Linked DNA regions of Homo sapiens. The protein of the gene in region 4 purifies or fractionates together with the protein of the main gene of each other region. This does not show direct contact. Each region holds a gene or a part of one and is shown on either strand. Other genes may lie near its edges. The genes, in order: ATP2B1, FIRRM, USP1, OPALIN, ATP2C1, MROH1 and FLVCR1.

Evidence for each region.
Region 1: the proteins of OPALIN (region 4) and ATP2B1 purify together in Homo sapiens (co-immunoprecipitation; 2 studies listed by BioGRID and IntAct, with this or other methods). This does not show direct contact.
Region 2: the proteins of OPALIN (region 4) and FIRRM purify together in Homo sapiens (co-immunoprecipitation; 2 studies listed by BioGRID and IntAct, with this or other methods). This does not show direct contact.
Region 3: the proteins of OPALIN (region 4) and USP1 purify together in Homo sapiens (co-immunoprecipitation; 2 studies listed by BioGRID and IntAct, with this or other methods). This does not show direct contact.
Region 5: the proteins of OPALIN (region 4) and ATP2C1 purify together in Homo sapiens (co-immunoprecipitation; 2 studies listed by BioGRID and IntAct, with this or other methods). This does not show direct contact.
Region 6: the proteins of OPALIN (region 4) and MROH1 purify together in Homo sapiens (co-immunoprecipitation; 2 studies listed by BioGRID and IntAct, with this or other methods). This does not show direct contact.
Region 7: the proteins of OPALIN (region 4) and FLVCR1 purify together in Homo sapiens (co-immunoprecipitation; 2 studies listed by BioGRID and IntAct, with this or other methods). This does not show direct contact.

The regions. Positions count from the first base shown.
Region 1 is NC_000012.12:89,618,339-89,621,838, forward strand, and holds part of ATP2B1 (plasma membrane calcium-transporting ATPase 1), read right to left. Parts: intron 3,454-3,500; coding exon 3,211-3,453; intron 1,903-3,210; coding exon 1,661-1,902; intron 1-1,660. UniProt on the Homo sapiens protein: Catalyzes the hydrolysis of ATP coupled with the transport of calcium from the cytoplasm to the extracellular space thereby maintaining intracellular calcium homeostasis.
Region 2 is NC_000001.11:169,801,540-169,805,039, reverse strand, and holds part of FIRRM (FIGNL1-interacting regulator of recombination and mitosis), read right to left. Parts: intron 2,420-3,500; coding exon 2,315-2,419; intron 1,872-2,314; coding exon 1,731-1,871; intron 966-1,730; coding exon 800-965; coding exon of another isoform or gene 792-799; exon of another isoform or gene 654-791; intron 1-653. UniProt on the Homo sapiens protein: Regulates PLK1 kinase activity at kinetochores and promotes faithful chromosome segregation in prometaphase by bridging kinase and phosphatase activities.
Region 3 is NC_000001.11:62,440,049-62,443,548, reverse strand, and holds part of USP1 (ubiquitin carboxyl-terminal hydrolase 1), read right to left. Parts: intron 2,062-3,500; coding exon 1,941-2,061; intron 1,355-1,940; coding exon 1,250-1,354; intron 391-1,249; coding exon 230-390; intron 1-229. UniProt on the Homo sapiens protein: Negative regulator of DNA damage repair which specifically deubiquitinates monoubiquitinated FANCD2. Also involved in PCNA-mediated translesion synthesis (TLS) by deubiquitinating monoubiquitinated PCNA.
Region 4 is NC_000010.11:96,356,203-96,360,490, reverse strand, and holds the start of OPALIN (opalin), read left to right. Parts: upstream 1-1,488; 5' UTR 1,489-1,594; coding exon 1,595-1,597; intron 1,598-3,331; exon of another isoform or gene 3,332-3,581; intron 3,582-4,288. UniProt on the Homo sapiens protein: Central nervous system-specific myelin protein that increase myelin genes expression during oligodendrocyte differentiation. Promotes oligodendrocyte terminal differentiation.
Region 5 is NC_000003.12:130,956,584-130,960,083, reverse strand, and holds part of ATP2C1 (calcium-transporting ATPase type 2C member 1), read right to left. Parts: intron 810-3,500; coding exon 743-809; intron 1-742. UniProt on the Homo sapiens protein: ATP-driven pump that supplies the Golgi apparatus with Ca(2+) and Mn(2+) ions, both essential cofactors for processing and trafficking of newly synthesized proteins in the secretory pathway.
Region 6 is NC_000008.11:144,245,516-144,249,015, forward strand, and holds part of MROH1 (maestro heat-like repeat-containing protein family member 1), read left to right. Parts: intron 1-1,785; coding exon 1,786-1,921; intron 1,922-2,051; coding exon 2,052-2,164; intron 2,165-2,643; coding exon of another isoform or gene 2,644-2,762; intron 2,763-3,022; coding exon of another isoform or gene 3,023-3,215; exon of another isoform or gene 3,216-3,331; intron 3,332-3,361; coding exon 3,362-3,500. UniProt on the Homo sapiens protein: Lysosome fission factor. Recruited to lysosomes by RAB7 (RAB7A or RAB7B) at scission sites and homooligomerizes to mediate the constriction and scission of lysosomal tubules. May sever membranes by inserting amphipathic helices into one bilayer leaflet.
Region 7 is NC_000001.11:212,896,275-212,899,863, reverse strand, and holds the end of FLVCR1 (choline/ethanolamine transporter FLVCR1), read right to left. Parts: 3' UTR 501-3,589; downstream 1-500.

The DNA.
Region 1 (3,500 bases), on a different chromosome or scaffold from region 4:
TTAAGTGCCACAGAGTTGGTGGTCATCACCCGCTTTCTCAGATGAGAAAAATGGAAGTAAGGGAAAAATCTGCCCCATATCCAGAAGCTAGTTAGTTGCAGAGAAAGAGTCAATGCCTGATCAGTTTTGACTAAAAAAAATTCTCTCCTAAACCATCTATCTACTACCCAGCAAGCCAGGGTTGAAACAGATTTCTAACCTTTTCAATGAAATCAGGTAACTGAGTGTACTGTGGCAAGAAGAAAGCTGTATATGGCCTGTGTGCCACAAAAGCCCATCACTATTCAGCTGAACTATACAACCAGATATTCCCCTCCCCAGTATGACCTGCATATTCTCATCTCCTTTCCTCTGCTGTGGTTTCCCCACCTCGAAGTTCTCATTTCATACCAAAATCTATCTTAAATGCCACATCCCTACAGTGTGATCTCTCACCCAAAAACTTTGTACCAATTTATTATATGCTGCCTTCAGTTATTTATTTATATATTTGTCTCTTAAACTAATTGTAAAGTGTTCATTAATACTGGCTTATAATCCACATGTAAGCAAATTAAAAGTATATCTTAAACATTTACTTTAATATTTTAAATATTATAATTTCAAATGAGTTCCAATTTTCCCAACTTGCTCTTAACCAGTATTTTTTTTTAACCAGTTCTCTACTTCTTTAATGAAATTAAAGAAACTAAAATAATTTCACCACCTTTAATAACAAATAAACATCAGGGAAATTATATGTGAACATGTAATAACAAAATTAAAGCTACTGATCTGTAAAAGGACAGTAAGAAAAATTAGTATTCAAAATGACAGGAGATATTTAAATACGACACTGCAGCAGCATAAACATGATAAATCTCATTTTGATATAAATGGGGAATTTCCAAGATCCAGCTTTTATGCTTTGCTATTCTAAAAATTACTTCATAATTCTCTTATCACATTCAGAGTCCAGTAACCACAATGAGCGTTGAAGATCTAAACTTGAGGCCAGGTGCAGTGACTCACGTCTGTAATCCCAGCACTTTGGGAGGCCGACACAGGCAGATTACTTGAGGTCAGGAGTTCAAGACCAGCCTGGCCAACATGGTGAAACCCTGACTCTACTAAAAATACAAAAATTAGCCAGGCGTGGTGGCAGGTGCCTGTAATCCCAGTTACTTGGGAGGCTGAGGCAGGAGAATCCCTTGAACCCAGGGGCGGAGGGTGAAGTGAGCTGAGATCGCGCCACTGCACTCCAGCCTGGGTGATACAGGGAAACTCCACCTTAAACAAATAAAAAAAAAAAAAAAAAGAAAGAAAGAAAGACATAAACTTGATTTTCTTCCCAGGAGGCTTTTCAAGATTCTGCATATTAAATAACAAGTAAATCGACTTCTAAAAATAAACATCAAAGTATACTTCATTAAACATACCAGATTGAATGTAATGAGCTTATTTTCCCTATAACAAAATGCTAAGAAATAAGAGAAGCTAGAGTGTGAAAATGGCAGAATAGCAGGGGCAAATATCTGGATACCATAAAATATGCTAAAAAACTCTGAGGTCCTATCAAATGCCTGATGTTCACAAAAAGACAACAACAATAACAACACAGTAGATACTCCATAAAGCAACTATAGTCAGCAATTTATTCATCCAAGCATTTTACTCTTACTTTTTCAGAATTATCTCAGATGCACCCTTGCTGAATATTCGATAACTTCCATCTGAATTTTTCAGGACAGTACTCATGGACTTCCTAACAGAATTGAAGGTGTAGACTTTGTACAGTGCTTCTTCTGGTATTTCATTTCTAACATCCTGATAATCCCGTTTTAAATCCAAAAGAAGTCCCAACAAGGCACATTCAGTTTTATTACCAACGTGACGAGGTAATCCACCCTCTTTCTCTGGTGGCTATAAGAGAAAAACATTTAGTAGCTAGTATCTCGTTTCTCTAAGAACGTTTAATTTATAATGTAAAACAGACTGCGATATTCTAAAATAAAATTACAAAGCAATTGTCTAATATCAACATTTTAAAGAAGGATATAGAAAAGTAAGGTAGAAAGGAGCCTGGGGTGAGAATGACATGGATTCTAATCTCAGTCCTGCCAGTTACTAGCTACGTGAAATTTGACAATTACCCAACTGCTTTGGTCCTTGGCTTCAGCATCTGTAAAATAGGAGCACTTATGACCCCAAAATTAAGTGATATAAGATGTATGAAGTTTATAGTTGGTTCCTAATACAGAGTGGAACTTAATTTTAATTTCCTTTTCCTGTTTTCACTTAACTTTTATACTAAATCATTCAAAATTAAATCTACCAATTTTTATGGCTTAAAAGTACATTCATTAAAATACTGTTCTCTTAAATGCAGTGAGAAGCTTCAATTCCTTCATAGTGCCTTCAGAAATACCACTTTACATAATTATCACAATGGTATTAAGGGCAGATGTGATCATCTTTACTCAGTAATTAAAGAAGGTAGCTCAGACTTTCAGCTAGTAAAAGGCAAAGCTAGATCTAGAACCAAGATCCCATAACTTTCCAATGTAATCATCCAATTCATGTATGTTTTCCCTAATGAACAGCTTGCAATATTATTTTTGTTAATGATTTTCATCCATAAATCACTAGAAGAGATTAAGTCAAACATAACATCGCATTCTTTCTGTTATAAATAAGATTTTTAAAACTTGTAAGTTGAAAATTTTTTATTATATGGTGGCACAAGTCTAGAATTACTTTACTGCATTAGTTCTAAAAAGGTCTAAGGACCACCTTTTAGGTAGGAACTACTGAGAAACCAAACAGAACACATGGCAACCATATATAAAACATGTTATTTTAAGTTGAAATCGGCTTAAAAATTTTCTGTAAGTTGAGAGCTGACCTCCTATAGTAAGACAGTTTGATCTTTCTCAAAAATGAGCTTAACAAGAATTTAAAATTAAATACATGCTCTGGTTATAAGGCTGGAGAGTTTCTGAACACAGGAAATTCAAAATATAGGAGAAAAATGTAAGCAAACAATGTTTATGTTGATCAGCAGACCTCACTCATAACACAAATTTAAAAACCATTATATAAATAAATATATGCCTTTTAAAAACTTAACAGTTCAGTTTACATACAGTAATGGTGGTCTGAAGACTTACATATAGTCTGATCATTATAGATTTAAAAATTAATTTTCATAAATTATTTCAAAAACCTTACCAATATTTTTGATGTATAAGCACAATTCACAGAAATTCCTGTTACAAGATAGGACAAAATATTTGGTGGAATAGCTTCTGGTTCAGGAACCTTTTTATAATGTTTTTCATTTATGTAAGCTTGAACGACTGTCATTCTGTTCATTGTCAAAGTTCCTGTTTTATCTGAACAAATAGCTGTAGCATTTCCCATGGTTTCACAAGCATCCAGATGCCTTACTAAGTTATTATCTTTCATCATTTTCTACAGTGACCAAAAAAAAAAAACTAGTTAAGCTGCATATAAAACCA
Region 2 (3,500 bases), on a different chromosome or scaffold from region 4:
TGATAAAATCAATGAAGTGTGTTACGACCAGCAATTCTTTAAAAATAAACTAGTATTGGCTGGGCACGGTGGCTCATGCCTGTAATCCCAGCACTTTGGGAGGCTGAGGCAGGTGGATTACCTGAGGTCAGGAGTTCAAGACCAGCCTGGCCAACACGGTGAAACCCTGTCTCTACTAAAAATACAAAAATTAGCCAGGTGTGGTGGCGGACGCCTATAATCCCAGCTACTCATGAGGCTGAGGCAGGAGAATCGCTTGAGTCCGGGAGGCGAGGTTGCAGTGAGCCGAGATTGTGCCACTGCACTCCAGCCTGGGCTACACAGTGAGACTCTGTCTCAAAAAAATAAAATAAAATAAAAATAAACTAGTATAAAGTGCATCACATGTAAAATGAGTTATTTCATTATAATATGTATATGAGAATAGACATATTTACATACACATATGCACGTATTTATATGTATTCTGGAAGGAAATATAAACTGCATCTCAATATCAGTTATGGTTAAAAAAATGTGAAAGTTATTGTCTCTGAATATGGACAACCTCAGAGATTATAAAGTTATATAAGTTAATCATTGTGGAGAAATTACAGTAACTAAATACGCAAATCTAGGTTAAGGTACCCAAAATAAATTTTACAAATTCCAAATTTCAAGATTAAAAATTTATTTGGTAAGATTTAAATCAATTTTAATGCATAATTAGTAAGAAAATAACATGAATCATTAGAGACAATTTTAATTGATACATGATTTATAGTCACCATATACTAAGCAGAAAGTTTTCTTCACTCACCTATTACCATATTCAAAATATCATCATTGTCATCTACTAAAGGGTCCATGCAAACCATGTCCAGCAGTTCCATTAACTGCTTTTGAAGAGAATAGGCCTCCTTGAAAAGAGCCTGGAGAAGGTCTGAAACTAGGTGTAAACACCCAGAATACACAGATTCACTATTCTGATTACGGATAAATAAAAATGAGAGAAAAAACAAATCAAAGCTCAAGAGCCAAATTTACTTTAATTCATACTATTAGAGATCATAAATTTACTGAATCACATATTCATTCATTGTTTAGTGAACATCCATTAAATATAGTGTGCTTCAAGAGATGCAAGCATGTATAAAATATTATTTCTGACTTCCATGATCTTGCAAATACAGAACTAAAAAAGGGTAACATTAGGCCAGGTGCGTGACATTTTTAGCATCCTATCAGCAAAGAGAGGTATTAATTAACTAGTGATTTTCATTCGCCCAACAAATAGCAATATTAAAACTGTCTGTGACCCATAAATTCTAGGCAAGCTTTTGTGCCTCAAGGCTACCTCTGGCATGTAGAGATGGACTAAATAAGGATTAACTTTCCTTTATAAAAGGAAGTTCTGACATCTAATCATAATGGTAATTGAATATTGGTCAATGCAACATGACATAACTATTTCAGGATCCCTGTGTCTGTCTCAACACAAATTCTTAAAACTTCTTTCTTTATAGAGGGGAAATAAGATAAAACTAAAAAACCCCAAAAAGCCACTTTTAATGACTTCCTTAAAACCACTTTTTTTGCAACAATTATTTACTTACATGTTCTTTATTCTATGGAAAAGTTTATTTCAATAATATAGACTAAAATGTAAAATCTTATACAAACATTATTTTACTCAGCCCCTATGCACATTGATTATATACCATTCAAAGTATAATTAGACCTTTACTCACCTTACAATGCACAAATGTGCTTTTAATTATATGAAGGACTGAGGAGGGGAGACTCTGAATATTTTCCAAAATGATGGATTCCTGTGTGGCACAGATATGCTGAACACATCCTGTGAGAGCTCCTAAGAGCTGCACCATTGTCTGTGAATAAGGAAGGAAATTTCACTTAGAATATATTTTTTGTGCACTGAAAAGGTATTAGTCAGCATGCTGGGTGCTACAAATACAGCAATGAACAAAACACAGTCTCTTCCTCTTTTCACAGAACTTTAGTCTATCAGAACTACAAATACTGGAACAACTGTCTAGCCATTTAGAATACTAACACAAACTTCAAAACACATGGCAGGTGTTCCACACATATCCTTGAAAATACAGGTAGGGTCAGCTAGCTTGATGACTTCTCTTCTTATAAGAGTTTATTATTCAGAATTCATGTTTCTATATTCACGTCTTTAATTCTATAAATTTAATTCCAACATTAGGCCATTACATAAGAATACATAGCTAATCAGTATCAGTATAAAAATTTTGACATTCTTTAAGCTCCCTCTCTCTCCTGCTTTCTAATACATTTGACTTACTTGTAAAATATTCCTTAGAGTGGTCTGGATTTCCAAATTTTGGCTTGACAGTCCTCTGGCTTGACTGGTTAATTCATACATCATGTCATCGAATAATTTCACAGTCTGTAAAAACAAATCAAGTAATAAACAGGAATAAGAGAAATCACTAGAAAAGACAAGACAAAACTTTACAGAGAAAACACAATACGATAATTTGATTTTGCACTAGTAACATCCACAGGCTATCATCTAGCTTAACAATTGTACCTAATTAAGCACAAAATACAGAGAAAAGGTATTTTTACAACATAATCCCCCCAAAAGCCCCAAACAGAAATTTATTTTCCATTTCTATGGTTTGAATCTATTTAATAGCATCAATTTTTTTAAAAAATCACTCAAAGTTCATGTTTTAGAGATGCAAAAAATAAAAGTATTACTTTCGCACAATAAATTTGACTGTCTTGAAGAATCCACATTCATACAGTCATTTACAAGGGTATTTTCTGGAAGGAATTTGCACTGAATCGCCTATTCACTACTCACTTATTTTCTAACCAGTTTCCTTTTGACCCAATTCAAGCTAACCTTCCTGAATTAAGGGTATAGTAAATGACCTTACAAACAAGCTTTTTGTCTGTGAAAAGTTAGCCACCCTAGATCTTAATACTTGGATCTTTCTAACAATTTAAATGACCTAAACATTATAAGAATAGCAACACAGTCAACAATACAATGTAGCTAAAGAAAATACTGTTTCCCATAGGCCTGTTAACACTCAACATCCATTTTCATCTATGTAACAGTTGAATCTTTTTCTGGTGGTCAAGAACAAATTCTAAGAAATATTTCAGATAGAGAATCATCAAGTGACTATGAGTACAAGAAATTTGAAAGATTACGATTCAAAGCTAAAGTTAGAAACCCATTTCAATAAGAGATTAATTACAAATAATGTTTCATTTTGGCACCAAAGTATCTTTAGTTCCCTCCATTTAAAACAAAAAAGGTATGCTTGTGCTTTTCAGAGAAAACATATACCATATATATCTAAAATGTAATAATGTATTCTGTGAATTTAATGTTTTCTCTTAGTTACTTGATTTTGCCAATATTCCAGCTTTTCTTTTTTTTTTTTTTTTTTTTGAATTAAGGGTTTCACTCTGTCACCCAGGCTGGAGTACAGTGGCTTTAAAATACAAGA
Region 3 (3,500 bases), on a different chromosome or scaffold from region 4:
ATATGAATGACTATAAAAAGCCTCATATAATATGTTCAGATCTAACGAATTTAGCACCAAATTTATGAAAAAAATTTCCAGTATTCAGAGTCTCTGGGATATAAAGGACTGTGGACCTAGAGTTTCTACTTTCCTTGCCCTTTATTCCTGTTTCTTCGCATGTCATTCTCCTCCAAGGATATAAACAAGTAGCTAAATTGAAACCCTAAAATTATATTATAGGCTATACCTCAGTGTGTTAAGCAGTCGCCTTGGCTGAGTGGCAAGTTCATCAGTATATTTCTCTGGATTTAAGAGAAAACTAGCCTGGAGCTGTTCAACCGAAATGATTAAGGACTGTAAACTGCATATCAATTCATAACTTGCCAAAGAATCTTCTTTGCAATTTCCCTGTCAAGAAAGAAACACACAAACCAATAATTTTATGAACAAATTAAGTACCTTCCCCCTTTGTCTTTGTCTCACTTAAGAATACTAGATTTTCTAAGTTGCATAATAGCACTAATTTTAAGGGATGTACAAATAAGCCTTATTTTTTATTTTTTTATTTTGAGACAGGGTCTCTGTCGCCCAGGCTGGAGTGCAGTGGCTTGATCGCGGCTCACTGGAGCCTCAACCTCCTGGGCTCAAGCAATCCTCCACCTCAGCCTCCCAATTAGCTGGAACTACAGGCTCACACCATGACGCCCTACTAGTTTTTGTATTTTTAGTAAAGACAGGGTCTTGCCATGTTACCCAGGCTGGTCTCAAACTCTTGCGCTCAAGCAATCCACCACCCACCTTGACCTCCCAAACTGCTGGGATTACAGGCATGAGCCACCACGTCTGGTCTTTTTTGTAATTTTAAGAGGAATTATGAATTACTATTTATGTGAATTACAATGGTTTTTTAATTATGGAAGTTAAAGATTTCTTTAAATACACTGTATTTAAATTTTAACTCAATTTGAAAACACAATGGGTAAATAAGTTGTACATGGGTATAACATATTGTGATTATAGTATACAGTAATATATAGTATACAAGTAACAAAAGTTTGATACACAGATTACAGGAGCAAACATTGTAAAAGGGAATTATCTAGTTAGCCACCTTGAAAGAATGAAAAATAATTGCCTGACAATAGCTCGCTAACAGAGAAATAATCTTTGTCATCCACCCCCCCAGTCCTCTTCATTTCCAGGCAAGTAAATTTCCATTAATTTACTTTTGCTTTTTACATTATTTTCTGTTCTTTATTTTTCTTACCTTGTCTTTTTGATTGGCTTCATCCTTTAGAGCTTCTTTCTTCCTTGAAATAATATTAAATAAGTGCTTTACTCCAGATTTAAAACCGGGACAAAAATATAATACCTATAAAAAGTGAGATTGTCTTAAGTGTTTACTGAACAAACAATACACGTAAAATCATTAAAACAACATCATGCTTTCTATAGAGCACTTTTAACATGTATTACCCTAAAATTCTGAGATTAAGTTTTGTGTCAAAATTTGTTCTCCACTTCATCAGTAGTAGCCCAGTGTCTTCCCTCATTAGCACAAAGCACTGCACCTGGGCAGATATTGCTAAGACTTTAAGGTTACAAGGACACACAACACAGCGCCAACGGACACACAACACAATGCCAACGTTACTTCCAAGGGATAAGACATATATCACACTGTAGCACCAGGAATCAGAGAAAGAAATTAAAGGTTTGACCTTCCACTTAAGGTCTACTCAATTTTGCTATCCCACCTTTATTTAGTCTATCATTTTCTCTTACCCCAAAGGAAGTTTAATAACATGTAACTTATTATTTTAGCCTATTCTGGTTTATTAACAATCAAAGGCAAAGACAGTATGGACATTAAAGTCCTCCAATAACTCAAAAACATTAAATGCTACATCAATCTTTGCCTACTAAAGCTTTATGATATAGCAAAATTGTCAATTTACCTGAAGTATACTATTAAGATAGCAAGTATTGCCGAGATTATTCAGTCCCACAAATGGTAACAAGTTTTCTCTCTTCTCACAGTTTATAGGTGAAGACTGTGCTGCAGGAACAACTTGATCACTATGAAATATAGAAGGGAGAACGATAAGTAGTTATCTTAAAGAAACAAGGTGAAAATATTACTTCTGTAGATTTAGTCTTTTCCCAAAAGTTGTATAATCTGAAAAGTATGTGAATCTTGTTCAGATGACATTTTAAGAAATACAGGCTCAAAAATTGCTATATGCCCAGAATAAAAGTTTTAAAAGCATTTAAAAACATTATTACACATAACAAGCCACAGAACAATTCCCTTAAAAGGATGTTAATCCTATTTTACAGAGTAGAAAATTGAGGAACTGAGAGACTATGATTTGTTTCATCTACTTTGACATTTTAATCAAATAGTTTAACTGAACAGAAACCTGGGAATAAACTAACCATGACAATATTTGGGAGAGGCTGCACTAAGTAAGATTCTATTAATAAGAATTCAGAGGAAAGAAAGTCTGTGAAGAGAATTATATATGACTTCCTGCTGGTAAAAAAAAAAAAAATATGTAGCTATCCCTCACTTAAAAATAAAATGTTCAGAATGTGGGTGTGGGGGCATTGACATGTAATTCCAGCTACTTGGGAGGACTGCTCGAGCCCAGGAATTCAAGACCAGCCTGGGCAACACAAGGAGACCCCATCTCAAAACACAAATGCTTTAAGTTTACTATTCTTTTACTTCTTTAACAACAACAACAAAAAAACCACTAGGTCCTTCCAATATTTTCATTTATTTTACGATTGCTAGCTATTATTACTCTAGCACCTCAAAGTATTCAGAAGTATGAATGCTGATAAACAAAAGCTTCACTCTCACAAATCTCCTCAACTGGTTATTGATAGCTATTAGGAAATTAACACATGGGACCAAATCCACCTTAGTCACCCAGCAGAGTGCCTATATGTTAAACAGGGAGTAGTACAGACTCCAGCTAGAGCTGCTGGTGGTGGAATAAAGTATTCCACTTTGTTCTGATTTATTTTCTGTAGCTAAATAATTTATTTGCATCAAAAGCATTACTTAAAGTTTATTTTTATAATTTGCAATCATATGCCTCCAACAGGTATGACTAGTTACATGACTAGAGTTTAAAATGTCTTATAACTGTCAAGTCTTCTGAACCAAACAAATATATATATATATATATATAAAACCTTTTACCCCTACACAGATGTTTTGCACTACAAATAATCAAATTTAAACTCAGAAAGACAATTTTAGTCAACAAATATTTCTCCAAGTTAGTCTAAATGGCTGAGCACAGTGTTAACATGAGTTAAACATTATCGATGTGATTCCTACGGGGAACCACCAGTTTTGCTGTTCCTACTATAAACTGCTAGATTTGACTAAGAAGTACACTGAAGCGTACTTTTTTGTGCCGCTACAGACTATCAAGTCAGACTGGAGTTGTCAACCAAGTTCACTGCTGCTTTACTGTAGAATTTTTAAAGTACAGAAATGT
Region 4 (4,288 bases):
AGGCCGGCCACTCCCAAACGGATGTCTTCAGCCCCAGATCCCCTTTATCCAGTCGCCTACTTGGCACCCACACTTGGACAGCCCCTAGGCTACTCAGGTGTAAGGGCAATCTGTTTCTCCAGTATTACCTGCCTAAGCTAATAGCATCTCCATTTTTGTTAGTCAAGCCTCAAACCCAGGAGTTGGCTTTATTCTTCTCTTTCCCTCACCTCGCCCTTCCCCGCCCCATATTTTTTTCATCATTTAATCCCAGTGGCTCCACCTCCACAGTAGAGAGCACAATCATTCACTGCTGTCTTCCTACAGCAGCCACCTTCATCGCTCACCTGGACTCCACTAGCCAGCCACCTGCTTCCACTCTCTTCCCCTGTAATCTTGGCTCCACAGAGAAGCCCTAGCAATCCTCGTCACCAGCAATTACATCATGCATCTCTCCCACTGAAAAACCCTTGGAAAAGGTTTCATCTAAGGATGAAAATCTTACCATGCCCTCCCATGTCACATCAAAAGGGCTCAAACTCACTCCGTCCTTAGCCCCTTCCCGGGTGACTCCCTGGTTTATGTTGTTCCAGCCAACCGGCCTCCTGCCTGCTCTGGGAGTGCACCAAGCTTACAGGGCTTAGCATTTGCTGTGGCTTCTGCCTGGGACTCTCCTCCCTCAACCCTTCACATGTCTGCCCTCTTCTCATCTTTCACGCACAGCTTCAGTGCCATCTCCCAGAGTCATCTAAACAACGGCCTCCTCTGTCACTTGAGTCGCTCTCTCCTTACACTCCTATCTGCTCCTCTCACAGTGGTTTTCATTTCAATGGCCAAATTATTGGTTTAATTCTGTTGTTTTATTAGCAACTCATTCACCATTTTAAAGAGGCAAATCCCTAACAGGGAAATTGTAAGTTATAAAGCAGCCCAAGTCCATGGCTTCCTCCAGGTCTAGAGAGCTTCCCACCCAAAATACAAAAACAGAGAGGGGGTGAGGCTGAACTCACACCAGGCAGCTCATTGGCCACTGAGTGCAGCACCTTGCAGCAGCTGGAGCCCCCAGCAGTGTGACTCCTGCAACAGAATGGGCCCCCACCCCTCCTCCAGACATCCCGAATGTCCATGCTGTTGTCCATGTAACACAATGACTCCATCATTATCAGTAACATGGTTAATGTGGACTCCCGTCAGCTGGGGATGGAGTGGCCAGCCTCAGCCTCATGTAACCCATTGTTTCCAAAGGGCTGCAGGCTGCAGAAGCCCCCAAGCTCTCAGGCCAGCTGTGGCTTCTTTGCTGAGATGGAGGTATAGCCAAGAAAGCAGCCTGAAAAGTAAGGACAGAAAATCAAGGCAAAGAGGGTGGGTGAACCAGGCCATACACGTCGGCCATGCAGCAGCAGCCCATCTTTCCCGAGGGATGGACTGAGGGCTTGGCTACTCCCCTGACCATAAATGGCTTGGCCAGGGTTCTCTTGGAGCCACCTCTCAGCCTGCCTCTGCAGCTTTGTCAGTTAACTGTTCCTACAAATGAAAGACACAAGCCAATAAAGCCAGTGAGAAAGGAGCTTACCAAAGGCAGTGTACGAAGAAGGTTCCTGGGAGACTGTCAGAAATGGTGAGTGAAAGCTGGCATCTCTTCTCAATCGAACTTTCATTTCTTACTATAAAAAACCTCCAAATTCAATTAAATGTACAATGAAGTAAAGGGACTTTATTTTAAATTATTTTCCTATATGCAAAATACCAATAATTTTTTAAACTTCTCACCTAATATTTGCTGATCTTGTCTTTCATTTTGGTATTAAGGTTTGTTTTTAAAACCCCACATACAAGAGTACAGAGTAGATGTTTCACCTATGTTCCCTTTCTAGTTGAAGCAATGGATCTAATCAACGATTTTATCTGTCTTACTTGTTTAATCTGGCTTTTTGTTCCATCATCAGCAACATGGATGGTCATCATTGATCAGAAATTTTCCATCTTTCTTGTTTACTTGTGATAAATATTTTGTTGTGACTCAATCAAATGAAGTTTGCTAAGTTAGAAGAGAAAACAAGAGGGTTCTGTGATTTACTAAAGAATTATGGAAACAGCCTAGGTGTCCATCAGTGGATGAATGGATAAAGGGACTGTGGTTTATATGTATATATACAACTGAATATTAGCTTTAGAATAGGAGGAGACCCTGCCATTTGCCATGTTTGTCCTATTTGGACCTGGAGAACATTATGCTAAGTGAAATAAGCCAGACACAAAAAGAAGAATATTGTGTAATCTCACTTTCTTGTGGAATTTTTTTTTTTTTTTTTTTTTTTTTTTTTTACAAAAAGCATTGTTAAAAGGAGTAGAGCTCAGTCTGTGGAGTTAGGGAGATCTGTGATCTAACCTGATCTCTACCACTTAAAAGCTGGTGAGCAAAAACCTATCTTGGTCTCAGTTTCCACAGGTATAATATAGGAATAATAGTGCTCCCTTCATGGGGAGGTTGTGAGTATGGGGTCTTATACCCAGCACACCTTCAACAGCAGTAAGTTTTTATCCTGTCTCTTCCTCCTTCCTCTCACAAACTGCAAACTTATAATGAAGGACGTTCAGCCACTGAGATCCCAAAATGCCTTCAGAATCATTGTGTAGATACTGCATAGTGCTCAGACTAGCAGTAAGCAATAATTGCATTGTATCCAATTCTAGTACTTTGACTATCACTAACTCATGCTTGCAATTCCATTCCACAAGAACTTTCCTATCCTTAGCTCTGTGCTGGCCAGGCCATAAAGAATATGCTACCACGTGATCCCTAAAACACAGAGGGTGTTTTACAGTTTGGGAGAAAGGAGCTGCCACAGATGACATTACGGTATTCCCTTGTGAAGTGGGCAAGGCAAGTTAATAGTATCCCATTTTGAGAATGGGAAAACTGAGCCTTGGAGAATAGATTTGTTGTGAGAAAATGGAGACCAGAGGGTTTGAGTGACTTATCCAAGACTACACAGCTCCTAAGTGGCTAAGTGTGGGCTCGAATTTAGATCAGGTGGCTCCAAGCTCAGGGTTGCATCATCCCACTCAGCTGTGTCTCTGAAGGGCACTGCATCAGATTCTTCTCCACCCTAATTTGTGCGATGTTTTTCTCTCCATGAGAGCACTGTACTGTGTTTCTACAAAATATGAGTGTCTTTCTGAAATTGGCCAAAATCTCCGTCATCCGAATGTTGATAAACAACACATGCAATGGCCCACTTGTTGCTGCACCCCCTCTTCTACTGTCCTCCCAAAGGAAGCTTTGTCTTAGGGCTGCTGACATCAGTCCTCAGTGCCCACTGATGAGATAAAGCTCTGGGCAGCTGCATTCAGTGCAGCGACCATCCAGTGTCCTTGCAGCACGTGTTGGTCTGGTGCTAGCGTGAAGAGCAGTGGTTAGGTCCCTTGAGCAAGAGGACCCTGACCTAAGAGGCCCAGACGTCCCTGTGTTCCACCGTCATCCCAGAAGCAGAGGTGCACAGTGCTGTCAGCCTGGGTGCTCTGATTCATCCACAGAGACTACTGGAGTTGCTTGGAAGCCTTGCAGAGTGGTGGAAAGAGGTTGTCACCGGGACACTCAGGTTCTGGTGACAGCTAAGTAGTTGTTTGGACTTGGGAAACCTGTTCAAATTCTTGAGGCTTGGTTATTCTCTATAAAATGCGGGTGTCCTATTGCCAAGAGGGGGAGAAGTGAGCAGAGGCACCACTGAAGCGTGCTAGTTGAGCAGGGCCACGTTGATTGAAGGACATAATATTTGGGGCAAAAGCTAGGGGGACTTACACATTCTAGGTGCTTAAAACACTTCTGGTTCACAAAAGATTTTCTTGTTCATTAACCCATCTGAATTCCAATCCATCAGTAAGTCAGCTGAAATAGGTGTTTTGTCAGTTTGCTTCTGTTGGGATGAGATCCTCTGTTACCATCTTTCGGGTTGGGGTTGAGTCACATAGACTGCGGCCCATTGGCTGGTCTATGTGGCTCCAACTGTTCTCATTTGTCCATGAGGTGATTTCTGATAAGTCCCTGGGTTTCAGTTTCCTCTGCTGGAAAATGAGGGTTTTGAGAGAGATGATCTTTCAGGTAATTCAGGTGTGAAACATGATTCTTTTGGATTCTTTAATGTTTCACAACTTTCCTATTGTTGGATAACATTTAATTTTAAAACTTAATGAATGCATTGTTTCTACAATGACAGAATCTGGTCTTGGGATGCTGGAAAGACGGGAAGCTGTGGTGTAGACCAAGCCCAGGGAAATATCTGGGGGTCAGGGAGACCGAGGCTGAAGG
Region 5 (3,500 bases), on a different chromosome or scaffold from region 4:
GGTTGAAGTTTTTTCCATTCTGCTTGGTATTTAGTGAATCCTTTCAATCTATAAAGACTTACTTTTTGCCTTAGCTTGAGAAAATACTTGTGTGTCATATCTTATGTAATTTTTGAAACTCCAATTAGTTACAAGTGGTATTTCCTGAAATTATTCCTCTTCATCATTTTATCTCATTCTAAGACTTTTTACTCTTTTTGGGGGGAGACCTCTTTGAATTTATATTACACCCCTACAATTGAATTTTTAATTTCAACAATCATAATCTTAATTTCTAAAAACTCTTTTTGTTCTCTGATCCTTTTCTACAACAATTTATCTCATGGATGCAGTTTCTTCACAAGTCTCTGAAAATACAAACACTTGGTTTTTAAATTTGTCATCATTTCTTCAATGTTTCGTTTTCCTCTGAAATTGATTATTCAATTTCTATATTGTGAACTTTCTCTTTCATGTTGCTAGTTTTCAATTTGACAATCCTTAATTGTATATTTATATATAAAAAGGCAATAATGCATTAGTAATTCCAGACATCTAGTATGGGTTTTCTTCATTACCATATACATACATTTTCATTTTTCTAAGGATAATTTTAATATATGACTTCTGAACTATTTATGTAGCGATGTTATACTCTTATGGGCTCCATGTAATACTGATCTCCATAATAAAACGTAAGCTATGTCCATTAGAGAAATAAAAGAGGCAAAAGAGACTCCAATTATAAAGTATTGAGACTTACCTTACACTAATAGTAAACATTTCCAGGATATCTTTTCCCAGTAACCAGCCAACCAACATGATGATTCCTGAAAGATAATTAAATAGTTATTTTTCCCTTTTACATACAATCACCTAGAAGGAACAGAACAAGCTGAAGGAATCTAAAACGTCCCTTGACAAAAAAGGGAAAGCATATCAGATCACAATTAGAAGATTTTATAAAAATCCATTAAACAGGGGAGGTTAAAGTTAACACTGCTTAATGTGAATGCTGTGCATACTCACATACGTACATGTGTGCACACACACACCACACATGCACACACACACACAGTTTTACTTTTGGTTGACACTGCTCCTACCATCCCTTAAAGCAGTAATATTTTATTATTTTTTTAAAAATTACCAGTATGTTCATACAATGAAAAAAAGAAGGTGGCAGCAAACATATAGGTCTTCTATTTAATATCAAATATGCAAAATTAAACCCTAAAACTTTATTTTCCATAACACAATATCCAGACACTTCTCAGCAAATCCATACTACACACAAAGGGACACTTACGACTTGGCTCAAAAAGTGATGTGCCTTACGTTAAGCACCTACAACTGCATTAACATCTAAAAATCACTACTTTTATGGCATTTCAAAAATTTAAAAATCAATTAAACCAATACTCCTTGCTTTAACCTTTTATCTTTGAAAAGAATAGGGGGAAAGGGGCGCACAAGCAGGTTTGTGAGGAAAAAGCAAACAGATTCACGAGAGGTTTGATAAAATAAGCTATCTCAAGACTGCAAATCAATATGAACATTTAAGACAAGTTTTTTTTTTCATCTTTATATAACTAAAGAATAATTATCCAAATAGCAACCTTCTAAGATCCTATCCCAAATACTATCATGATGAAAGAAATTATGTCCAAAGGATTATACCAGGGGTCAGCAAACTATAATCTGTGGGTCTCCTGTCTGCTTAGGTAAATGAAATTTGTTGGAACATAGCCACACTCATTTATTTACATATTTTCTATGATTGCTTTCATGCTAATGGCAAAGTAAAGTATTTCCAACAGAGACCATATGGACTAAAATATTTACTATCTAGTTCTTTACAAAAAACAAAAAAAAACAATTGCTGACCCCTGATCTAGCTCTTGACCTTGGCAAGAAAAATTATGTCCAATGTAATATACTAACATATAACCAGAGATCGTAAAGTTGAAACATATTTATTACTAAATTTGAAATGGTTTATGGTATAGTGCTAATAGAAACTACAAAGATTTAATTGGCTAGAATGTCATTCGATCTATCAAATTCACTATAAAATTTCTAGAAAATGAGCAATAATCAAACGGAAGAAGTTATGAGGGCATACACACCAGTAAAACAAAAATAACTAAGATAACTTCCTACCTTCTACTTTATGTTTACAATGAAGATAGATGGATAAACAGAATTACTATTTACAAAGTTATTTCAACTAATATTGTATTAACAGAAATATTGCTTTAAAATTGCATTAGTCCTGTAATCCCTGCACTTTGGGAGGCTGAGGTGGGCAATCACATGAGTTCAGGAGTTTGAGACCAGCCTGGCCAATGTGGTAAAATCCCGTCCCTATTAAAAATACAATAAAAAAATTAGCCAGGTGTGGTGGTGCACACCTGTAATCCCAGCTACTCGGGAGGCTGAGGCAGGGAAATCACTTGAACCCCAGGAGGTGGAGGTTACAGTCAGCCGGGATTGCGCCATTGCACTTCAGCCTGAGCAACAAGAATGAGACTCCATCTCAAATAAAAAAATTGTATTACTGACTTTGAAATACTAAACTAGCTGGAATAATTAACACGGTAAGAAAATTAAAGGAGAAAAGACTCCAAAATTAATGCAAGTGCTTAATGTGTGATAAAAACGTGACTTCAATCCAATGAATAAAGACTGGATTACAGAATTAATGGGATAATTAACTTGAGTAAAAAAGTTAAAACTCTGCCTTAAGCCATGTACTAAAATAAATTTTAAATAAAATAGTAAAATGTCAAAAATAAAAAACTATACAACAATGTTTTAATAAATGTTCTTATAAACATGAGGTTGGGAAAATCTTTAGGAACAGAACAAAACCAACTTAATTGCAGAGATTATCAATAGGAGGGTGATAACAGAATCTCAAGGAAAAGGGGATGTTTTAACCCATTTGTGTCTGAGGTTGCAATTTTTTGAATTTTTGCAACCAGACCTTGGCAATGACCTTGAGCAGTAGGATATAAATAAGTCCCACATGCTTAGCATTCCAATAATGGAACACTAGGCATAAATGGTTAATTACATATATTGTCCTCTTACCAAGTTTATTCCACATGCCTCAAAGGCAACTTAAACGGGAAAAAAAAACTTATACAACAAAAAGATTGATAATCTAGTCATATAAAAAGCTTTTATCAATCTAAGACTCAAGACACAAGAAAAGGGACAAAAGAAATCGTTGGCAGGTCATAAAATGAAATAAAAATGATCAACCCACACATGACAAAGCATTCGGTTTCCCTAATAATGAACTGTGAAATCAAATAATGAGAACTCTTTTATTTACAGTTGAAGTTAATGACAATACTTAAAGCTGGCCAAAAATTTAAAAGTTACATGGATCCCCTTTGACTAAATAATTTTATTTCTAAGAATTTTTCCTTAAAAAAGAGAGGTATTTACCAGAAGACACCACACTAAAGAAGTATTTATATGACCAAAAAAAAACCCTCAAAAAATCCTAA
Region 6 (3,500 bases), on a different chromosome or scaffold from region 4:
CGCGGTGCTTGATTTGGTTGGCGATATTTTTATCATGTTCCAGAAGCATCTATTTGTTTTAATGAGAACTTTTATCAGGAACAGGTATTAGATTTTGCTAAATATCTTTTTATCATCTGTCAGGATTATTCTAGGCTTTCTTTTCTCTCTCTTTTTTTCCCTGAGACAGGGTCTCACTCTGTTGCCCAGGCTGGAGTGCAATGGTGCAAACACAGCTCACTGCAGCCTGGAACTCCTGGGCTCAAGTGATCCTCCCGCCTTGGCCTCCCGAGTAGCTGAGACTACAGGTGCATGCCACCACACCCAGCTGATTTTCTTTTATTTTTTGTAGAGATGGGTCTTGCTACATTGCCCAGGCTGGTCTTGAACTCTTGGGCTCAAGTGATCCTCCTGTCTCGGCCTCCTAAAGTGCTGGGATGACAGATGCTGGGGTTACAGATGGGAGCCACTGCACCTGGCCTTTTGTTAATGCACCAAAACTATCTTTTCTTTTTTTTCTTTCCCTCCCTCCCTCACCTCCCTCCCTTCCTCCCCTCCCTCCCTCCCTTCCTCCTTCCTTTCCTTCCTTTCCTTCCTTTCCTTCCTTCCTTTCTTTCCTTTCTTTCCTTTCTGAGACCGAGTCTCTCGCTCTCACCCAGGCTGGAGTGCAGTGGCGCAATCTTGGCTCACAGCAACCTCCGCCTCCTGGGTTCAAGCGATTCTCCTGCCCCAGCCTCCCGAGTAGCTGGGATTACAGGCGCCCACCACCACTGCCGGCTAATTTTTGTATTTTTAGTAGAGATGGGGTTTCATCCTGTTGGCCTTGAACTGGTCTTGAATTCCCAGACTGGTCTTGAACTCCTGACCTCAAGTGATCTGCCCACCTCAGCCTCCCAAAGTGCTGGGATTACAGGCATGAGCCACCGCGCCCTGCCGAAACTTTCATTCTTTATGTGGTCAAATCTCGTGTGTTCAGGGCTCTTCCCACCTCATACTTTCATGGCCTGTTCATCACATAACCCTGGTCTGGCTGAAGCTTACCTTGGTGCATGATGTGATGGATGCCCAGTCTAAGAACAATGGCTGGTCACCCTGCAGTCTTTCTCTAACATTCCAGCCTTTCCCTTCTGACTTGAAATTCTTTCTCATCAGTGGCGCCCAAGTAGATACCAGGTTTCCATCTGAGCCCAGGATCCTGTGCAAGGGTAGGGTGGGAGCACCTCCCAGGAAGGCCTCGCACGTGGGGGCTGAAAAGGGAGCAGGTGGTGGGAGGGGGACAGGTGCGTCTGCCAGGGAGGAGGTGTGGAAGTAGGAGGAAGCTGTCTGCCTATAGGAGCATGGGAGGAGCAGGACTGAGGAGAGCAGAAAGGCTCTGGAAGGCAGGACCAGGACAGTCAGGGTGTGAGGGGGTCTTGTACAGTCCTGCCCCTCACCCAAATTGGCAGAGCCCGTGCACTCCTCCCATTTGGGGCCCCCTCCTCACCCCAGTTGTCCGTCTGCCTGCACACGCCTGCGTGCCCACGTCGGCATGGCCTGGCCCTCCTTCTTGTAGGGGCCCGGCCTGGGAGCCTGTGTGGCCCTGGTGTAGACGAGGTGTGGTCAGAGCTGAGCTGAGCAGCGCCCACGCTGCAGCAGGAGGGGAGGGAGGAACTCACTGGGAGCTGTGTTGGCCACACTGAGGGCCCAGGGCTTCGTGGACACCAGCAGCACTCCTGGCCACACTCCAGCCCTCCTCTGGGTACAGGTGGCATAGGTGGCATCCACCCACCCCCAGCATTCTAATAGCCCAGGCATCTCCTCCTCCAGGCCCTGGTGCCCTTCCACAACCTGGGCCTTCTCATCGGCCTCTTCTCCCCACGGTGTGCGGACCTGTGGCCTGCCACCCGCCAGGAGGCCGTGGACTGTGTCTACTCCCTGCTGTACCTCCAGCTCGGCTATGAGGGTGAGCCCTCGTCAGGAGTGTGGGGGCCAGTGGTCGTGCAGGGGTGCTTGGAGGGATGAGGTGCGGAGTCCAGGCTGTGGGATCGCCAGGGAGGGCCTGGGCCCGACTGCTCATTCCTGCCGCCTCTCAGGCTTCTCCCGGGACTACCGCGATGACGTGGCGGAGCGGCTCCTCAGCCTCAAGGACGGCCTCGTGCACCCTGACCCCGCCATTCTCTTCCACACCTGCCACAGTGTAGGCCAGGTACCAGCTGGGAGCTCTGCGGCCGGAAGGCAGGCTGGCACTGTCTGGGGCTAACAGGGACTTCCGAGGTGGCACCTGGCCTCCCCTAGCCTCTGGAAGTGCCACCCATGGCCAGTGGGCATGAGCAGGGCCTGGGTGTTTGCATTAGTTGCCGGCGCTGCCCTGCGCTGGCCCCATCACCCACACCCGCCTACGCTGGGGCAGTGCAGTCCATATGAGAGGAAGGTGCTATTTGTCTTGAGACCTGGCAGAGGCCAAGGAGAGAATGGGGTGCCATGAGGCACAGCCGCCCTCTGTCTGCCACTGATACCCTGGCCTGCTCATGAAGATGCAGGTTTCTGGAACAGAATCTTCAGCGGCTGCCCTGTGTGGTGTTGTCCCCAGAGGCTACCCAAGAGCCACGTGGGGGGCTAGGGTCATCGCCTGCAGGGTGCAGCGGGCTCTAGCCCTCTTGCCAAGGGGCCTGCCCTTGGTTCCAGCTGGTCAAGGTGCTTTGTCTACTGCCATCTGAAGGGAGGATGACCCTGGGCACCGCGTCCCCTCCCCGACCCATGCCTGCCTGGTCTACTCTGAGGCTCAGCTCACAACACAAGCTTGAGTATTATTAAAGTATTGCATTACGGGGGGGAAAAAAAGAGTCCTTCCAAGGGGATGAGAAAGCTGCCCCTCCCTCCGTGCTCTCATGTGGGTCCCCAAGCTGGAACACGGCCTGTCTCCATTTGGTGCTTAGGAATGGCCTTCCAGGTCCAGAGACTGTGTCTCCTGCAGAGGAAGGAGGGGTAGGTCACCAGGGCCTTTTCTGGTGCTGGGATCACAGGTGTGAGCTAAGGCTCACCTGCCCTTGACCCCGTGTTCTAGAGAGCTCCAGGGCGACTGCACCACAGGGCTGCTCCCAGCCCACTTCACTGGTCAGAAGGAGCCTGAGGGAGGGTACTGTGACCCCAGCCCTGCAGCTGCCCAGGCACCACCTTCCAGGAGCCCGCCCAGGTTCCAGCAGGCCCTGGCAGGTTCCGGAGAAGGAGACCCCACCCCCGTGCAGCGAGCTCATTGAAGGCGCAGGGCCCAGCGGCTGGGGCCCGGCTGCAAGAAGGGGTGTGGCTTCCCGCCCTAACGCGAGCCCCTGAGACCCGATGCCTAACAGAAGTGGCGTTGGGGGTGCCCCCCTTCCCTCAACCTCTGGCATCGCCTTCCTCCTAGATTATTGCCAAGCGCCTCCCCCCAGACCAGCTCATCAGCCTCTTGCTAACCATGTTTGAGGCCCTGGGAGACCCCGAAAAGAACTGCTCCCGAGCAGCTACCGTCATGATCAACTGCCTGCTGCAGGAGCGGGGCGGTG
Region 7 (3,589 bases), on a different chromosome or scaffold from region 4:
GGGGCTGAGCACTCTCACTATGCTATCACCTTCTCCCATGGGAGAAATTGTGGACTGAGGGGAGTCTCTCTTGCCACTAAGCTGTGCCAACTTCAAAGAGTGATGCAGATAAAGTGAAAATCTTCTTCTTCCTTTTCTTTAATGCATTTATTCTCAGATATTTCTGCTCCAATGGTGTGCTGGAACTTCCACGTAGGACTTCTGGATTCCTACAAAAGAACTACCATCTGAAAGTACTGGTAAAAATCAATGCTTCTGTGGAAGAATGATGATATAAAGCTCCTATTCTGCCATCTTGCTAACATCACTCTCTAAAGTTACTTTTAAAGGAATAAAATATTTTAGTATCTATTTTAGCCCTGACCCTGGTAGACTTTGTTTCCTCATTTTATGTTCCATGCACTACCTCATTCCCTCTTTGCCCATTCTGAAATTTTATAATCCCTTTAAACTCCCCATGTGTACCTAAGCATCAGAATTTTTCAAAAAGTCACAGAAAATTAACATAAAAAAATAAATTTATTTTGAGTCTGAAATACTGAAGAACAAGCATACAGATAAATAGTACAAAGAACAAAAATTAGAACATGAGTAATGACTTAAGACACAGGCATTTTTCTAGCTATTGCATACAGACACATTTTTACACACAAACATATTTTTTAAAGACATCTCTCCAACATTCTCAAAAGGCAAGAGCTGTATTTGTGACATTTGTAATAAATGCAACAGCTTTTGAAACATCCAGTTTCTTTCCTAAGTCATTTGATTAAAATTCACACAAGTGATGATTACCTATTCCATTTTCTGAAAATACGACATACAGTCATGTTTCGATCAACAATTGACCACATATGACAGAGATCCTATAAGATTATAATGGAACTGAAAAATTCCTATCACCTAGTGATGCCACAGCCATTGTTACATTGTAGCACAATGTATTATCTGTTCTATGTTTAGATTACACAGATACCATTGTGTTACAGTTGCCTACAGTATTCAATACAGTACCATGCTGTACAGGTCTGTAGCCCAGAAGCGACAGACTTTGCCATCTAGCCCAGGTGTGCAGTAGGCTCTACCACCTAGGTTTGTGTAAGTACACTTCATGATGTTCACACAATGATGAAATCACCTAATGACAAATTTCTCAGAATGTAGCTCTGTCATGAAGTCACACATTACTGTAGAATTATAACATTCTTGCTTGACATATTACAGACAACTTTCACTCAAAATACAGAAAAATTATCAATTCATTTTGCATTGTCACATATTCCATCACCTTTCTAATCAACAAGGAAAAATAAACATAACATATATGTATATGCTTTTCAGAAATAAAGTATTCTAAATTTTATGTGTAATTTGTTCCAAACCTCAGGAACTCAACAAGTACATGATTATTTTAAACAACATTGATAGTTTAAAAATAAAAACATTTGGGGAGAGACCTTAAAATATATTTTTGGCCGTTTTTACCTGTAATGTAAATATCAAAGGAAGCTAATGATTGGACATACTCTGCTTGAGTTACCCTCAACTGACTAAAAAGGCTAAAAAGAAATGTAAAAGTCCGTTGTATCCATAAGGTAGCAATCACATTTGTTTATCCAATTGTCCAGGGAATTTTTCTCTGGCTGGATTCAAGTTCCTGTGATACAATAATTTGGTCTATTCCATGATTAATGGCATTTAATATTTTGGAAAGATCTTTGAGATCAAATTGAACACATTCATTTCATGGATGAGGAAAACGCTGCCCAGAGAGGTTTAATGATTTGTCCAGAGTTATAGGAACATACAGAAATACATCCAGGACATGGACACAGAGTTCCTGATTCTTAGTCAAATTCTTTAGATAACACATTCCCCAGGGTCAGATTCGACATAATTTACAGTCACTTGATTATAGAGAATGTTATAATTTCAATATATATCAATGCATATATTCTGCCTGATATAGTTGGGATACTTGTCCCTCCAATCTCACATTGAAATGTAATCCCCAATGTTGAAGGTTGGCCCTAATAGAAGGTGTTTGGGTCCTGCGGGTGGATCCCTCATGGCTTGGTGCTGTCCTTGCAGTAATGAGTGAGTTTTCACAAAATCTGGTTGTTTGAAGGTGTGTGGCACCTCCCTGCTCTCTTGCTCCTGCTTCGCCATGTGACATCTCTGCTCCCACTTAGCCTTTCACCATGAGTAAAGCTCCCTGAGGGCTCCCCAGAAGCCGAGCAGACACTGGTGCCATGCTTACACAGCCTGCAGAACTGTGAGCCACTTAAACCTCTTTTATTTATAAATTACCCAGTCTCAGGTATTTCTGTTCTTTTTTTCCTGAAACAGAGTCTCGCTCTGTCACCCAGGCTGGAGTGCAGTGGCGCAATCTCAGCTCACTGTAGCCTCCGCCTTCCAGGTTCAGGCAATTCTCATGCCTCAGCTTCCCAAGAAGCTGGGACTACAGGCGTGTGCCACCATGCCCGGCTAATTTGTGTGTGTGTGTGTGTGTGTATGTATTTTTAGTAGAGATGGGGTTTTGCCATGTTGGCCAGACTGGTCTTCAACTCCTGGCCTCAAATGATCCACCCACCTCAGCCTCCCAAAGTGCTGGGACTATAGGTGTGAGCCATCGTGCTCAACCTCAGGTTTTATTTATTTATTTATTTATTTATTTATTTATTTATTTATTTATTTGAGACAGTCTCACTTTATCTCCCAGGCTGGAGTGCAGTAGTGTGATTTTCGCTCACTGCAACCTCTGCCATTCGCATTCAAGCGATTCTCCTGCCTCAGCCTCCTGAGTAGCTGGGATTACAGGCGCCTGCCACTGCGCTAATTTTTGTATTTTTAGTAGAGATGGGGTTTCACCATCTTGGCCAGGCTGGTTTTGAACTCCTGACTTTGTGATCCACCTGCCTTGGCCTCCCAAAGTGCTGAGATTACAGGCATGAGCCACAGCACTGCGCCTGGCCTTTTTTTTTTTTTTTTTTTTTTTTTTTTTTTTTAGTAGAGATGGGGTTTTACCATGTTGGCCAGGCTGGTCTTGAACTCCTGACCTCAGGTGATCCACACGCTTCAGCCTCCCAAAGTGCTGGGATTACAGGCGTGAGCCACCACGCCCAGCCTAAATATTTCTTTATAGCAATGCAAGGATGGCCTAACACACTGCCTAAATCAAAATTGCTATTCACTTCAAGGGTATTCATTACCTGACTAGCTTTTTTGGGTGCATATGAACATAATGTAAATTTTATGGCTGATCAAATGTCATTACTATGAAGATACTCCCTATGAGCTCACAGAGTCAGGACATCAACAATATTTAAACTCTCACTGTAAACATGACACAGTGGTAGGCACTGTGGAAATATATTTGGTCCTATTTTCCCTACCTGAGCATGTAAAAGAGCAGACTATTCTAACAGTGTGATGACTCTGCAGTGAAGAAAAGAATCCACTCTCCCGGCACACTGATAGAGCATGTACCTGGGCATAGTATTCCTCAAAGGAGAATGGTCATAAAAATGATACTGCAGAATTCAAATAGCATTCAAGAGGTCTCCACTAAATGGGGACATGTAGGCTA